Linked DNA regions of Homo sapiens: regions 1, 3 and 4 are each reported to be linked to region 2. Evidence: microRNA targets listed by miRTarBase, many of them from high-throughput screens and not tested one by one. Region 2 holds a microRNA gene; each other region holds the end of a gene's coding sequence.

What was found. Region 2 holds the annotated microRNA hsa-miR-5001-5p (AGGGCUGGACUCAGCGGCGGAGCU, at 1,034-1,057, shown strand). A microRNA usually pairs through its seed, bases 2 to 8, with sites in the 3' UTR of a target mRNA and lowers its output. Matches are read on the target gene's strand: a 7mer-m8 pairs with bases 2 to 8, a 7mer-A1 pairs with bases 2 to 7 and ends in A, and an 8mer does both.
Region 1: miRTarBase lists ASB6 as a target of hsa-miR-5001-5p. Seed matches in the 3' UTR shown: 7mer-m8 at 2,281-2,287, 8mer at 2,477-2,484, 7mer-m8 at 2,914-2,920 and 7mer-A1 at 3,677-3,683.
Region 3: the mRNA of INAFM1 is a reported target of hsa-miR-5001-5p. Seed matches in the 3' UTR shown: 7mer-m8 at 978-984 and 7mer-A1 at 1,231-1,237.
Region 4: the mRNA of ELK1 is a reported target of hsa-miR-5001-5p. Seed matches in the 3' UTR shown: 7mer-m8 at 1,404-1,410 and 8mer at 1,247-1,254.

The regions. Positions count from the first base shown.
Region 1 is chr9:129,634,692-129,638,388 of GRCh38, reverse strand. ASB6 (ankyrin repeat and SOCS box containing 6) reads left to right here. Exons shown (of 6, transcript NM_017873.4): 6 at 1-3,697. The coding sequence ends at 599. NTMT1 (N-terminal Xaa-Pro-Lys N-methyltransferase 1) reads right to left here. Exons shown (of 4, transcript NM_014064.4): 4 at 2,254-3,181. The coding sequence ends at 2,925. Among named protein-coding and RNA genes, the nearest start is that of ASB6, 5.6 kb to the left of the region's middle.
Region 2 is chr2:232,548,587-232,551,586 of GRCh38, reverse strand. MIR5001 (microRNA 5001) reads left to right here and starts at 1,014; the gene lies at 1,014-1,113. TIGD1 (tigger transposable element derived 1) reads left to right here and starts at 1,030. Exons shown (of 1, transcript NM_145702.4): 1 at 1,030-3,000. The coding sequence starts at 1,705. EIF4E2 (eukaryotic translation initiation factor 4E family member 2) reads right to left here and starts at 898. Exons shown (of 7, transcript NM_004846.4): 1 at 843-898. The coding sequence starts at 862. RefSeq lists a silencer at 518-887.
Region 3 is chr19:47,274,399-47,278,095 of GRCh38, forward strand. INAFM1 (InaF motif containing 1) reads left to right here and starts at 487. Exons shown (of 1, transcript NM_178511.6): 1 at 487-1,325. The coding sequence starts at 522. The coding sequence ends at 950. It also overlaps a transcript of CCDC9 not described here. RefSeq lists silencers at 1-48, 409-858.
Region 4 is chrX:47,634,425-47,638,093 of GRCh38, forward strand. It overlaps ELK1 (ETS transcription factor ELK1), which reads right to left. Exons shown (of 7, transcript NM_001114123.3): 5 at 3,327-3,669; 6 at 2,589-2,690; 7 at 1,097-2,503. The coding sequence ends at 2,405. Among named protein-coding and RNA genes, the nearest start is that of CFP, 6.3 kb to the left of the region's middle.

The sequences.
Region 1 (3,697 bases), not on the chromosome of region 2:
AGACCGTGGGAGGGGACAAAGAGGAGGCCCAGATGATCAACCGCTTCTGCTTCCAAGTCACACGGCTGCTGCTGGCACACGGGGCCGACCCCAGCGAGTGCCCAGCCCACGAGTCCCTCACCCACATCTGCCTGAAGAGCTTTAAACTGCACTTCCCTCTCCTGCGCTTCCTCCTGGAGTCCGGAGCCGCCTACAACTGCTCCCTGCACGGTGCGTCCTGCTGGTCTGGCTTTCACATCATCTTTGAGAGGCTCTGTTCCCACCCAGGCTGCACGGAAGACGAGAGCCATGCGGACCTCCTGCGCAAAGCTGAGACTGTCCTGGATCTCATGGTGACCAACTCTCAGAAACTCCAGCTGCCCGAAAACTTCGATATCCACCCTGTGGGCAGCCTGGCGGAAAAGATCCAGGCCCTCCACTTCTCCTTGAGGCAGCTGGAGAGCTATCCCCCGCCCCTCAAGCACCTGTGCCGTGTGGCCATCCGGCTCTACCTTCAGCCGTGGCCTGTGGATGTGAAGGTCAAAGCCCTGCCTCTGCCCGACAGGCTGAAGTGGTACCTCCTTAGCGAGCACAGTGGCTCCGTGGAAGATGACATCTGATAGGTCTCAGGCTACAGGAACGGGGGACACGGGCAGCTCAGGTCAGCCTGTTGGTAGATGCTGGGACAGCATTAGAAGAGGGTCTTTTTGATCTGGGAGATGAGACGGGATCCTTCATGAGAAAAGCCAGCCAGGTAGAGCCTGAAGCTGTGATCACTCCAGTGGTGAAGGGTGCAGCTCTGGTTCTTCCAGAGAGACTGCCCCCTTCCCTCCAGCGGCACTCCAAGTCCCCCCCATGTTGGAAAGAGGAACAGGGCTTGGATTGATGTTTATACCCTCTGAATTGGAGGGCAGTGCCAGGGCATTTGCAGAAGCTGGGAAGGACCAAGCCTCAGCACCCCAGGGCTGCGGGGCTCTTGTTGGCCGCACGTGGCAGTGCAGCTGGAGAGGAAGCCTGGGGCACGTCCTGTGCGGTGCCACCAAGGCCCCACCCCTGCCCCTTTTCCTTCCAGGTTCTGTTACTCACAGAAGTGTTTCTGGTGGGCTCTGCGGGAGAAGACACTAAGGGCCCCACAGGCTTGTTTCATGGTGTTGCAAGCCAAGCTGGCCCCTGCCTGTTCCTGTAGCTCTGGGGCCAGGTCAGCCGTGGCCCCACCTACCAGAACTGTGCTCTGCTGGCAGCTGTGCTTTTGCCAAACCCAGGGCCTCAGCGACCATGACTTCTGCTAAAAAGCAATCATGAGTGCGTGGCTGGGGACAGACCTCTCTGAAGTGTCTCCTGTTGTGAGGGGCTCACTTTGGAGCCACTGAAGAGCCGACTGTGCCACCCACTTGCGAGCCTCAGTCCCTTCCAAGCTGCACTGGTCATTGGGAATTGTGTAAACACCTCTGGGGATAAGCTGAGGTGACTAAATGATATATTTATATTATAAGATTAAACTGACTTTCTTGGCCTTAACAAGGTCCTTATATAAAATTTCCACCCCGCCCCTCCATAGTTCAGGATAGAGGCTCCCACAGCAGCCGGTAAGGAAGTGGGTGGCAGGTGTGAGGGGATGCTGTGTTTGGGGGGTTGTTTCCAAGTCCCTGCAAAGAAGCACCACTCTAGACTGGCAAGGGCCTCCACAGTGTGGAGGTCCCATTTTATTATTTTTTTTTTTCGAGACACTCTGTCACCCAGGCTGGAGTGCAATGGTGCAATCTCGGCTCACTGCGACCTCTGCCTCCCAGGTTCAAGCAGTTCTCCTGCCTCAGCCTCCTGAGTAGCTGGCATTATAGGTGCCCACCACCATGCCTGGCTGATTTTTGTATTTTTAGTAGAGACGGGGTTTCGCCATGTTGGTCAGGCTGGTCTCAAACTCCTGACCTCAGGTGATTCGCCTGCCTCGGCCTTTCAAAGTGCTGGGATTACAGACATGAGCCACTGTGCCCGGCCCCCATTTTATTTTAGTTTTATTTTGAGACAGAGTCTCGCTCTGTCACCTAGGCTGGAGTGCAGTGGCGCAATCTCACCTCACTGCAAGCTCTGCCTCCCGGGCTCACCCCATTCTCCTGCCTCAGCCTCCTGAGTAGCTGGGACTACAGGCGCCCGCCATCACGCCTGGCTAATTTTTTTTTTTTTTGTATTTTAAGTAGAGACGGGGTTTCACCTGTTAGCCAGGATGGTCTCAATCTCCTGACCTCGTGATCTGCCCGCCTCGGCCTCCCAAAGTGCTGGGATTACAGGCGTGAGCCACCGCGCCCAGCCCCATTTTATTTTTTACTTTAAATGCCTGCCAAGGAGCAGCCTCAAGCCCAGAGAAGACTGAGGCTACGGGGAACTTCCCTTGCTGCAGGCTGTTGTAACACTTTAAGGGCCCCAGGTCTCCACTGCCAAGCAGGACTTGGCACATGAGCACCCACCCCACAGCACCATCAGGCAGCACCCATGGGCTCCACCAGCCCAGCTCTGTCCCTCCCCTAGGTAAAGATCACACTGAAGTCTTCAAGTCCCCAGCAACCAAGTTGGGGGTGGTTTCCTTCCTCTTCAGGCAGCCAGGCCCATGGCTGGAAGGCCGGGCTGGAGGCCCAGGGAATCGGTTACTGATGTGGCCACCCTATTCCCACATGGGGAGCACCAGGAGCCCTGGAGCCCCTTCCACCCAATCCCATCTCGCAGGAGAGCAGGGTCTGGGCTCCTGCCTCACCGCTGGTTCAGCAGCACCCTCCCCGCCGGGTCCCACCTTGCCTTTTGAAGAAGAGCCCGCATAATGAGTGGACGGCAGACAGCTATATTTAGTGGTGCCTCGACACTCACGAACCGCCAGCGTGGCGCCTGGATCTTGCCCAGCTGCCAGCTCCCCCCACCAGGACTGTGGTTCCTCAGTTTCTCCTGCCAGCCCCGGCTCATCTCAGGGCAAAGCTATAGACATGGTAGATCTCATCGGGGAGGTTCTCCTGCCTCTCCTCGGCCAGGAGGCTGAGGCCTGCACTGCAGATGATCCTGCGGACCACGTCAAGGTCCCGGCACACGCTGCTGTCCACGTCGTCCAGAATCACGCCCTCCTGGGCCATGTTGTCTTTGATGACGATGATGCCGTTGGGGCGGAGGCTGCCCTTGCAGCGCCGCAGGAACTCGGCCAGGTGCTGATCGGTGAGGTGGCCTGGGGAGGGCAGAGGCAAGGTTACCAGGGCACCATGCAAGCGGATGTCGGCACTGGATGGGATGTACTTCTCAGCCCCGCTGAGCCCCTCATTTGTGCCCAGCATTTTGTGTGCACACATGGCCTCATTGGCTCTCAGTCCCGAGAGATTTACTAAACCCCAATTCATAGAATAGGAAACTGTGGCTCAGAGGTCATCTACCTAAAGACACATTAAGCCAGAATTTGACTTGACGGGATGGCTTACAAGTCCTGCCTGATACCTACACACCATGATGCCCCACCCCTGCCAGGCTTGGATCGGAGGAGTGAACCTGGGCTAAGAGTTTGGCATTGCAGGAGCTCCCAGAGAGACTGCCTTCCCTACACTAGAAGTCCCCACAAAGGCTTCTGAGACCACAAAATACAAGGCCAGACCTAGAGTGTCCACAGCAGGCCTGTGCTGCCCGCCTCAGGAGGTGGCCGACTGCTGCTAGCGGCCTGCCGCCACGTCAGCAGCCCAGGGCACAGCGCTCG
Region 2 (3,000 bases):
GTAACTTTTCTACAGTCAAACAGATGGTAAGTGGTGAATCTGGGACTAGAAATCCAGGTTTTCGGATGAAGAGACAGTCGATTTACTAGACTACTAGAAGAGAGGAAGGAACATATTCTACCTCAAGATACAATCCTTGGAGGGGGATAAGTAAAGATACTTCTGCATTTTCTCTCTGTACCTCCAAACTGTTTGATGCTGAAACTAGAAACCGGAGCGGGCAGGAGAGGGCAACAAGTATACTTAGGTCTTGGCGAGTGTGTTGGAAGACGGGAACGGGAAGGGGAGGAGAAAGAAAGTAGGAAGAGTCTCAGGAAGATAATTCCTAAGCCAGCCTTCCACCGCGTCGAGGGCAGCAACCACATTACCTCATTGCATCCTCCAAACTCTACGACAAAGGGTGTTACCGTCCCCACTCTGCAGATGAGAAAACTGAGGCTCAGAGGGGAGAGGGAGTGTGTGGGGAAAGCTGGATTCAGAGGCAGCGCTGCCAGACTGCGGAAACACCCAAACCGCCGAGGTCCCCACCCCTCCACGTCGCAGGCAATCCGCATCCACCAGGGCGGGGCGTCCGAAAATCTCCCCCTACCGGGCGGCACAGCCACCCCTCCCCCGGGCCCAGCTCTTCGCCCTCGGTTCGGACGGCCCTGGGGTCTCCGGGACTCCGGTATCCATTGCTCCCCAGCCCCCTCCTCCCCGCCAGTCCAGGCCAGGTCCGGCCGCAGCCGGATCCCAGCAGGGAAGCCGGTGCCGCAGGGTTTGCGCCGCCCCAGCCCCAGCGGGGGCGGGCGCGGGGGAACTGTTCGGGGAAGGGGCCCCGGGGGCGGCCACGAGCCACTCACGCGTCGAACTTGTTGTTCATCCTCTCGCCGCCGCTGTCGCCACTGCCTCAGGGAGTGACTTCCGCTCCACCGGGTCCCTCAGCCTTGGGCCCGGGTACTTCCGGTTTTGCGCGGGGCGCAGCGGAACGTCGGCGCGCAGGCCCGGTTTGGAAGCGGCTATCTCGGGACGCCAGCTCAGGGCGGCTGCGCAGAGGGCTGGACTCAGCGGCGGAGCTGGCTGCTGGCCTCAGTTCTGCCTCTGTCCAGGTCCTTGTGACCCGCCCGCTCTCCTAAGGGAGCGTGTCCTGGCCCCCTCCCGCAGCGGCTCGGAAAAAAGGCAGCACCGCGTCGTTGACGGCGCGGGCTCTGGACTCGCTGCTTGGTAAAAACCTTCCTCTTCCTCCAGTGCGGGACGCACTCTCTGGTATCTCTTTTGACCTCCCGGAGGCTTTCCTTTGTCGGTCGCGGCGCCACTGTACTATGGCATACCTCGTTTTATTACGCTTCGCAGATAGGGCATTCTGAAAACAAATGGAGGGTTTGTGGCAGCCCTGAGTCCAGCAATTGTATCAGCGCCATTTTTCCAACAGCATGTGCTCACTTGGTGTCTCTGTGTTACATTTTGGTAATTCTCAAAATATTTAAAACTTTTTCATGATTTCTGTGTCTGTTATGGTGATCTATGATCAGTGATCTTTGATGTTGCTATTGTCATTGTTTTGGGGTGCCACATACAGCGTCTTTTATAAGACGTGGAACTTAATGTTGTGTGTGTTCTGACCGCTCCACCCACAGACCGTTCCCCATCTCTCTCCCTCTTCTTGGGCCTCCCTATTCCCTGAGACACAACAATATTGAGATTAGGCGAATTAATGACTCTGCAATGGCCTCTAAGTGCTCAAGTGAAAGGAAGAGTCGCACATCTCTCACTTTAAATCAAAAACTAGAAATGATTAAACTGAGTGAGGAAGGTATGTCAAAAGCCGAGATAGGCCGAAGGCTAGGCCTCCTGCGGCAAACAGTTAGCCAAGTTGTAAATGCAAAGGAAAAGTTCTTGAAGGAAGTTAAAAGTGCTACTCCAATGAACACACGAATGATAAGAAAGCGAAACAGCCTTATTGCTGATATGGAGAAGGTTTTAGTGGTCTGGATAGAAGATCAGACCAGCCGCAACATTCCCTTAAGCCAAAGCCTAATCCAGAACAAAGCCCTAACTCTCTTCAACTCTATGAAAGCTGAGAGAGGTGTGGAAGCTGCAGAAGAAAAGTTTGAAGCTAGCAGAGGTTGGTTCATGAGGTTTAAGGAAAGAAGCCATTTCCATAACATAAAAGCACAAGGTGAAGCAGCAAGTGCTGATGTAGAAGCTGCAGCAAGTTATCCAGAAGCTTTAGCTAAGATCATTGACGAAGGTGGCTACACTAAACAACAGATTTTCAATGTAGATGAAACAGCCTTCTATTGGAAGAAGATGCCATCTAGAACTTTCATAGCTAGAGAGGAGAAGTCAGTGCCTGGCTTCAAAGCTTCAAAGGACAGGCTGACTCTCTTGTTAGGGGCTAATGCAGCTGGTGACTTTAAGTTGAAGCCAATGCTTATTTACCATTCTGAAAATCCTAGGGCCCTTAAGAATTATACTAAATCTACTCTACCCGTGCTATATAAATGGAACAGCAAAGCCCGGATGACAGCACATCTGTTTACAGCGTGGTTTACTGAATATTTTAAACCCACTGTTGAGACCTACTGCTCAGAAAAGAAGATTCCTTTCAAAATATTACTGCTCATTGACAATGCCCCTAGTCATCCAAGAGCTCTGATGGAGATATACGAGGAGATTAATGTTATTTTCATGCCTGCTAACACAACATCCATTCTGCAGCCCATGGATCAAGGGGTAATTTCGACCTTCAAGTCTTATTATTTGAGAAATACATTTCATAAGGCTCTAGCTGCCATGGATAGTGATGTCTCTGATGGATCTGGGCAAAGCAAATTGAAAACCTTCTGGAAAGGATTCACCATTTTAGATGCCATTAAAAACATTCGTGATTCATGGGAGGAGGTCAAATTGTCAACATTAACAGGAGTTTGGAAGAAGTTGATTCCCACCCTCATTGATGACTATGAGGGGTTCAAGACTTCAGTGGAGGAAGTAAGTGCAGATGTGGTGGAAATAGCA
Region 3 (3,697 bases), not on the chromosome of region 2:
GAACCCGCGCGGGAGGAGAGCGGGGATTCCGGAACTAGAGTGTGGGAGCCAGAGGCCGTAGCGGGCAGGGCTCGAGCACTGGAGTAGAGCAGTCCGACAGGTAGAGAAGTGAGACTGGCTGCGGCACAGGGCGGGTTAGGGCTCCAGGCAGGGCTTGAGCGGGACGAGGGGGCGGGCTCCGAGGCGGGCTAGATGCCTGGGCTGGATGAAGTCCGAGTCTGGGAAGAGAACCGTGTTGTGGCGGGAGGAGGCGGTGATTGGGGTGGTGGGGCTAAGCGCGGGGGCGGGGCTGGAGCGAGGGGGGCGGGGTAGCACCTCCGCCTGTCGGTGGTGGGGCGGAGGCTGGAGGGGGTGGGCCTAGGATGCGGAGGCGGCAGCTCGCGTGGGGGCGTGACCATGCTGGCGGGGGCGGGGCCGGAGGCGGGCGGTTTAGAGAGCGGGGCGGTCTGCGGGGTGGGGGCGGGGCCTGGTGGGGGCGGGGCCTGTGCGGTCTGCGGCGCGGAGCCGAGTGGGCTGCGGGGATGCGGGGGACCAGCTGCGTGGGCGGCGGCGCCGAGAGCCCCGGAGGCGCGGGGCTGAGCGAGGGCCCGCGGGGGCGCTGGCTGCGCTTGGCTCCGGTATGCGCCTACTTCCTCTGCGTCTCGCTAGCTGCCGTGCTGCTCGCCGTGTACTACGGTCTCATCTGGGTACCCACGCGGTCTCCCGCGGCACCCGCCGGCCCACAGCCCAGCGCGCCGTCCCCTCCGTGTGCTGCCCGCCCGGGCGTGCCGCCTGTCCCGGCGCCCGCCGCTGCCTCCCTCTCCTGCCTCCTGGGAGTCCCCGGCGGGCCGCGACCCCAGCTCCAGCTGCCGCTGAGCCGCCGCCGCCGCTACAGCGACCCTGACCGCCGTCCGAGCCGCCAGACACCCAGAGAGACGCCAGAGGCCGCGGAGGGGCGAAGACCCGGGTAACTCTCCCTTCCACCCCAACCCGGATCGCCAGCCCTCGAGAGCTCTGTGCTCCACGCCGAGGATGCACCGTCTCTGGATTGGTCCGGCCTTCTTCCTAATGACATCGCTCAGCGTCTCTGGAGCCGTCATCCCGCGGAATGGGGGCCCAGGGGGTGTCAGCTCGGGGCCTTGCCTCTTGCAGCTACTCTGTGGTCAGGCCGGGTCCTCCACCATCAGGAAGATCCCATCCTGAGCTCTGTCTCCTGCCCCTCCTGCTGTGGGATGCTGAGCACAGAGCCCACAGCCCATCTGCCTCTTCACCTCCCTGAATCCGTGTCCATCTGCAATAAACGACAGCCTCGGCTGCCTCGTGCTGTGTCTGTCCTGTTGTCTGCAGAGATGCCTCCCCTCCCAAGTTTGTGTGGGAAAGACCTTCCTGGGGTGTGGCCTTTGTCTGTTTTGTCCCGGGTGGGCTGTTCCCCTTCCTTAAGGAGCTCTTCTTTTCTTGGAGTAGGGAGAAGCAGCTTAGCAGCAGCAGGGCCTTTGAAGGTCAGACAGTGGGAAGGGCTTCCCAGTTTTTTGTGTGCTTGGAGCAAAGGACAAATGTCTCTGGGGAGAAGCAGAGTGTCTGCCCTCGTGTTACAGCACAGGAGACAAGAGGAGGGGTGGGGTGATATAGGACAATAGCTGGGGTTCTGGGAATTGCTGTTGGTGTAATTATCATGTCAGGGACAGAGGCTGAATCACCCAGGGATCTCAGTTGGCTGCCGAGAGGGAACGATGCTGGCCCACTTCCTGGGGTCAGAGAGATGAGAGTGGATGGCGGCGGCGGTGGTGTTGCTTCTCAGCCTGTCTGGAAATCTCAGAGCCAATGACCAAAGCGCTGTGCTGCCTTGGAAGACTGGTGCAGCCTCTGGCCTGGGGCGCTGCTAGGAAACCAAGGCCGGGAAACTGAGGTCTAGCTTCTGGGCAAGGAGTCCGAGGTGGGGAGGCCATGTTCCATCCTGGAAGACTGAGGCCTGGCTCTGGACAGGGCCTGGGATCTGACATGCAGGAAGCTGGTTCCTGTCCAGCCTCCCCGCTTGAGCTGGAGGCCTTCCCAGGAGAGTGAGGCTGAGCATCTTCTCCCACGCTGTGGCTCCTGGAGATCTGTGGAGGTGGTTAGGAAGGTCAGCTGCTCTGCTCACCTCCCCTTTACCCCACCACCACTCCCCAGAGGGTGGTTGTGAAGGGGAATCTAGGAAGCCAGCACTTCTTTGTAGTCAGCATAGGTGATAGTTAGGGGCACTGACTGGGGCGAGACTACTCGGGTTCAAATTCCAGCTCCTCTCATTACAAACTGTGTGACTTTGGGCAGGTCACTTGACCTCTGTGTTTCTTTTTTTTTTTTTTTGAGATGGAGTCTTGCACTGTTGCCCAGGCTGGAGTGCAGTGGCATGATCTTGCTCACTGCAACCTCCGCCTTCTGGTTCAGGTGAGTCTCCTGCCTCAACCTCCTGAGTAGCTGGGATTACAGGTGCCCACCACCACACCCAGCTAATTTTTTTTTTGTATTTTTATTTTTTATTATTTTTATTTTGAGAGAAGTCTCACTCTTGTCCCCCACGCTTGAGTGCAATGGCTCGATCTCTGCTCACTGCAACCTCCACCTCCCAGGTTCAAACAATTCTCCTGTCTCTGCCTCTCAAGTAGCTGGGATTAAGGCCCCTGCCACCACGCCTGGCTAATTTTTGTATTTTTTAGTAGAGACGCGGTTTCACCATGTTGGCCAGGCTGGTCTCGAACTCCTGACCTCGTGATTTGCCCACTTGGGCCTCCCAAAATTCTGGGATTACAGGCATGAGCCACCACACCCGGCCTCTGTTTCTTTTTTTTTTTTTTCTTTTGAGACGGAGTCTTGCTCTGTCGCTCAGGCTGGAGTGCAGTGGTGCAATGTCGGCTCACTGCAAGCTCCGCCTCCTGGGTTCATGCCATTCTCCTGCTTCAGCCTCCTGAGTAGCTGGGATTACAGGCGCCCGCCACCACGCCTGGCTAATTTTTGTATTTTTAGTAGAGACGAGGTTTCATCATGTTGGTCAGGCTGGTCTCAAATTCCTGACCTAAGGTGATTTGCCCACTTTGGCCTCCCAAAGTGCTGGGATTACAGGCGTGAGCCACTGCACCCAGCCTTATAACTTATTTAAAATTTTTAAGCATTTTTTGTTTGTTTGTTTAATAGAAATGGGGTTTCACACTATGTTAGCCAGGCTGGTCTTGAACTCCTGGGCTTAAGTGATTTTCCTACCTTGGCTTCCCAAAGCCCTGGAATTATAGGCATGAGCCACTGTGCCTGGCCCTGCCTCTGTGGTTCTGTAGAATGAAGATGCTAATGGTACTTCTTCATAGACTTGCTCTGAGGAATAAATAAACTGGTGATCTCAAGCCCTGAGAACGATGTCACATGTTCTCTCTCTCCACCACCTCTGTCCCTCAGGGTTTAAAAGCCCCAGCTGGGATCCTCTGGGGATAGCAAGTCAGTCCAAAGCCCTGGCCACCAGCAAATGGTGAGTTTGAGGGAGGGGCCTCTCCATTTCGGTTCCCACTGGCCCCCCTCTCTTTGGTTTTCATCTCTCTTCTCCCAGCCCCATTTTTTCCTACTCTTTCGTTTCCTTGTTGCTGTGTGTCCTGGCTCTTTTCTCTTTCTGTGTTTGTCTCTCTGCGTCTCAGTCTTTCTGTGTCCTGTTTATCTCTCTGGTGTCTCTTGGTATTGTTTCTCTCTCCCACTCTGT
Region 4 (3,669 bases), not on the chromosome of region 2:
TTGGCATGTCTCATTTGCTCAGCTCTTTTGTATGGCCCCTGATTTATGGTTTCTTATGAACTGTTTCACAGACCCCCTGGTGCTCTGACATCACTCAGTTGTCAAGTTCCTCTCCCACAGTTTCTGACTTCCAGTTACTGCTACTGCCAAGTCTCTCATAAACAGTTCCTTGTCCCTCTCCCTTGCATGCCCAGTGATGTGGTCTCTCACACCATGTCAGTGGCTCCGTCCGGCTCACCGTCATTTTCTCTCCTACTTTCTCACAGTCCCTGAACCTGTGGGATAGACTGTGGTAGTAATGGTAAATCGATTTGCAACTAGTTTCAGGTGTACACACACACACACACAGCCTGTCACACTCTCCCAGTCACAGCCATTCGTTTTTCTCAGTCTTTGCTGCAGTCTCTCACGCCTGCTTTCGTACACACAATTGCACCTTCTTGTATCTTTGGTCTCGGTCACTGGTTTGGTCTCCCAGCCATTCTCTCCCGTACAATCAAGTTCGCACCCATACAGTCTTACAGCTTTAGCTGACACTACAGCCTCAAGTAAACAGTTTTGCACATCATCTATTTCTCAAACGTTGAGTCGCCTACAGTGAGGTTTGTCACCTACACAATCTTTGCCACAATCCCTGACAACCTCTACTGTAGTTTCATGCCCACGTAGTCTCTCACATGTGGTTTTGGTCACCCAGTCTGTCTTGCTCGCCATCAAACAGTGACAGGGCTGCAGTCCCCGTTCCCTTCTCGTAGACATTATTTTGTGCATACCATCACAGGTTCTTGTACAGTACCTTGACTATTCATCCAGGCTCAGTTATTTTCTGAAACACAGCCACAATTTCCCACATAGACACACCATCAAAAGTCTGTGGTCACAACTTCTGCACACTCTCACACACAATCACAGCTTTCCACGTCTCTGACACACACATGGTTACCGATATGCAGTCCCTACTATTGTTTCTCACACACGCCATCACACCGTTTCTCTCACAATCGACCTCTGCCTCACACCCTCCACACACAGTCATGCGTGTCACGCTCAGCTAGTCCTGACAACATCAGAGAAAAAGTGCCAGCAGCCTCCAGCATCACTTTGAAAAATATATATTTACAGGAACAATTCCCCATTCTCTGGGACTCTTTAGAAAAAAAAAAGGTCCATTTTGGGGAAGTAAAACAAACAGTGGAGACGAGTGTAGCACTGTCCCCCAAATCACCAACCCCCAGGTCCCAAGGCCTGGGCTGGGCCAGCGCTAACAGGTGAGCCCAGGAGTCTTTTGAACCCACTCTCTCTTGCCTAGAATAGAGACAGGACAGGCTTTATGTCCCCCATTCCTCCCTCCCAACTCCAGGGACATTGAAAGGGTCCTTTGTACCCGCCCGCAGGAAATTGGGGGGCTGGGAGGGAGGGAACTGAAAATTCATGTTTGGTATCAAAAATAAACACTTGGAGTGGGGGAGGCGGCAGGAAGATTCCCCCCCAAATCCCTTCCTTCCCACCCACCCCACCAAATATAGGAAGAGATGACTCCCTCTCCCCTATTGAAAAGCCCCATTTAAAAATAGATTATACTATCAAAATGGCAGCGGGGGAGAGACAGGGAGACCTGGAGTACTGGCTGGAGGGGCCCCCCAGACGGGGACCACCCCCCAAAAAAACCCTCCATTGGGAGGAAACAGGCAGGACCCCAGGGAGGTTGGCAGACAAAGGAATGGCTTCTCAGGGGGAAGAACAAAAGGGACATTCCTCCCTGGCCAAAAAGTTGGTTGAAAAGGATAAGCTGTCTGAGAGAAAGGTTGGGGAGGTGGAAATTTCTATTCCAAGGGTGTGATTCTTCCTTGGCCAAGACTCCCAACCCATTAAATGGTACAAATTCTTCCTGGACCCCTGAGTATGGCCAGGAATAATAAAACAAAACAAACTAACTCTTCTACTCACATCCAAAAACGCAGACAGGGCTCCCTCATCTCCCCAAGGGCAGGCTGAGAAATAAAGAAAGAAAGGTCGTTCTCAAGCCAGACCTCGATTGTCTTGTCTTGGGGAAAAAAGTGGGGAGGTGGGGGAGATGTCCTAACCACCCTAAAAGGTTAGGTCAGGCTCCTCCCAGTGGCCTTCAAAAAATAAATAAATAAACCGCCCCTACCATTGAAGTAGGAGACGTGTAAGGGCGGCCACTGGGGGACTGACAGAAAACAGAGAAGTTGTGGAAGCTGTGTGTTTTCTGTGGAGGAGATAATGAGAGTTACTCTTGGGAGTAATTCTTCCCAAGGATCCCCACCCCACCACAATCAGAGCATGAGTCTTTCAGTTGAACTATGTTTCTCCTTGAGATGGCTGGCTGGAGAGAGCATGGATGGAGTGACCCCAGAAGGGGTGGTGGTGGTGGTGGTAGTAGTCATGGCTTCTGGGGCCCTGGGGAGAGCACCACGGGGGTCGAGAGGCCATCCACGCTGATAGAAGGGATGTGCACCTGGGCGCTGCCACTGGATGGAAACTGGGGGCAAAAAGAGGGAGAGGTCACAGATGGGGGCCATTCTTGGGTCTCTCACCCTGTCCAAAACGGGGAAAGAGGATCCTACCTGGAAGGAGAGCTTGGCCGGGCTACGGGGCGCAATGGGACTCAGGGTGCTCCAGAAGTGAATGCTAGGAGGCAGCGAGCTGGGTGTCAGCAGCACCGGGGTCTGTGGGGAGAGGGTGGTCGGAGCTCAAGTGAGTAGAAAGTAGATGTGGGATGCTGGAAGGGACTTGGTCCCGGCCCCACCACAGATTTCCCACTCACACTCCCAGGGTCACTCCCCAAAGTGCACACACCTAGATGGTAACCATGGAGGCCATGCCTATGATCTCTCAAACTCTGCAGACACCCCCCACTCCCCACTCCCGAGAGCCCACCCTCAGTTGCTGAGACCTCATTGGTCAAGACCACCCACAAGACCCTATCCAAATGCTGCTCTCAAACCTCTCAAGTCACCATCCCAACAGCTCAGGGTCAACTTCCAACTCATGTCCCACCCATGAAACCCCATATGCACATCCCAGACCAAAAAGCCCTGCTCAGGTTCCTTAAGCCACACCCCAACCTAGAAACAGTCCCACAGAAAGACCCTCGGTCCCACCCACAAAAGTCCCCAGCCCTGCCCTTCACTAATCAAACCCCATCCCTCCAGCCAGCATCAGCCCAGTCAATCACACTCAAAGGCTCCACCCTCTTCAGGAACAACCACACTCACCCTCCTCTGATTCCTGTCAGTCACCCGCCACATGCCAATCCCATTGGTGCTGGCGCCCACACACCCCACCCCTCCGCAGGCACTCACCAATGTATGCGTAGGAAGCAGGGATGGGGTCAGCGCCGGCCCCGGAGCCTGGAGGCCGGAGCCACTTCCCGATCCTGGGGTCCGTTCGGGTCCCGGCCCACCTAGCAGGCTCGGGCTGAGTGGAAGCTCTAGGTCCCGGGGCTTCCGGCCCTTCTGCGGCTGGGAGATCTCAGGGCTGGAAGCCGCATGGCCGCCCGCCTGCCCTGCGGTGTCCATAACAACCGCGGGCAGCCGGGCTGGCACGCCCTCCTGTGGAGGGACTTCTGGCTCGGCCTTGGTGGTTTCTGGCACAAACCCTCTCTCCCCCGCAACTTCCAACTCTTCCTTGGGCCCTTCTACTTTC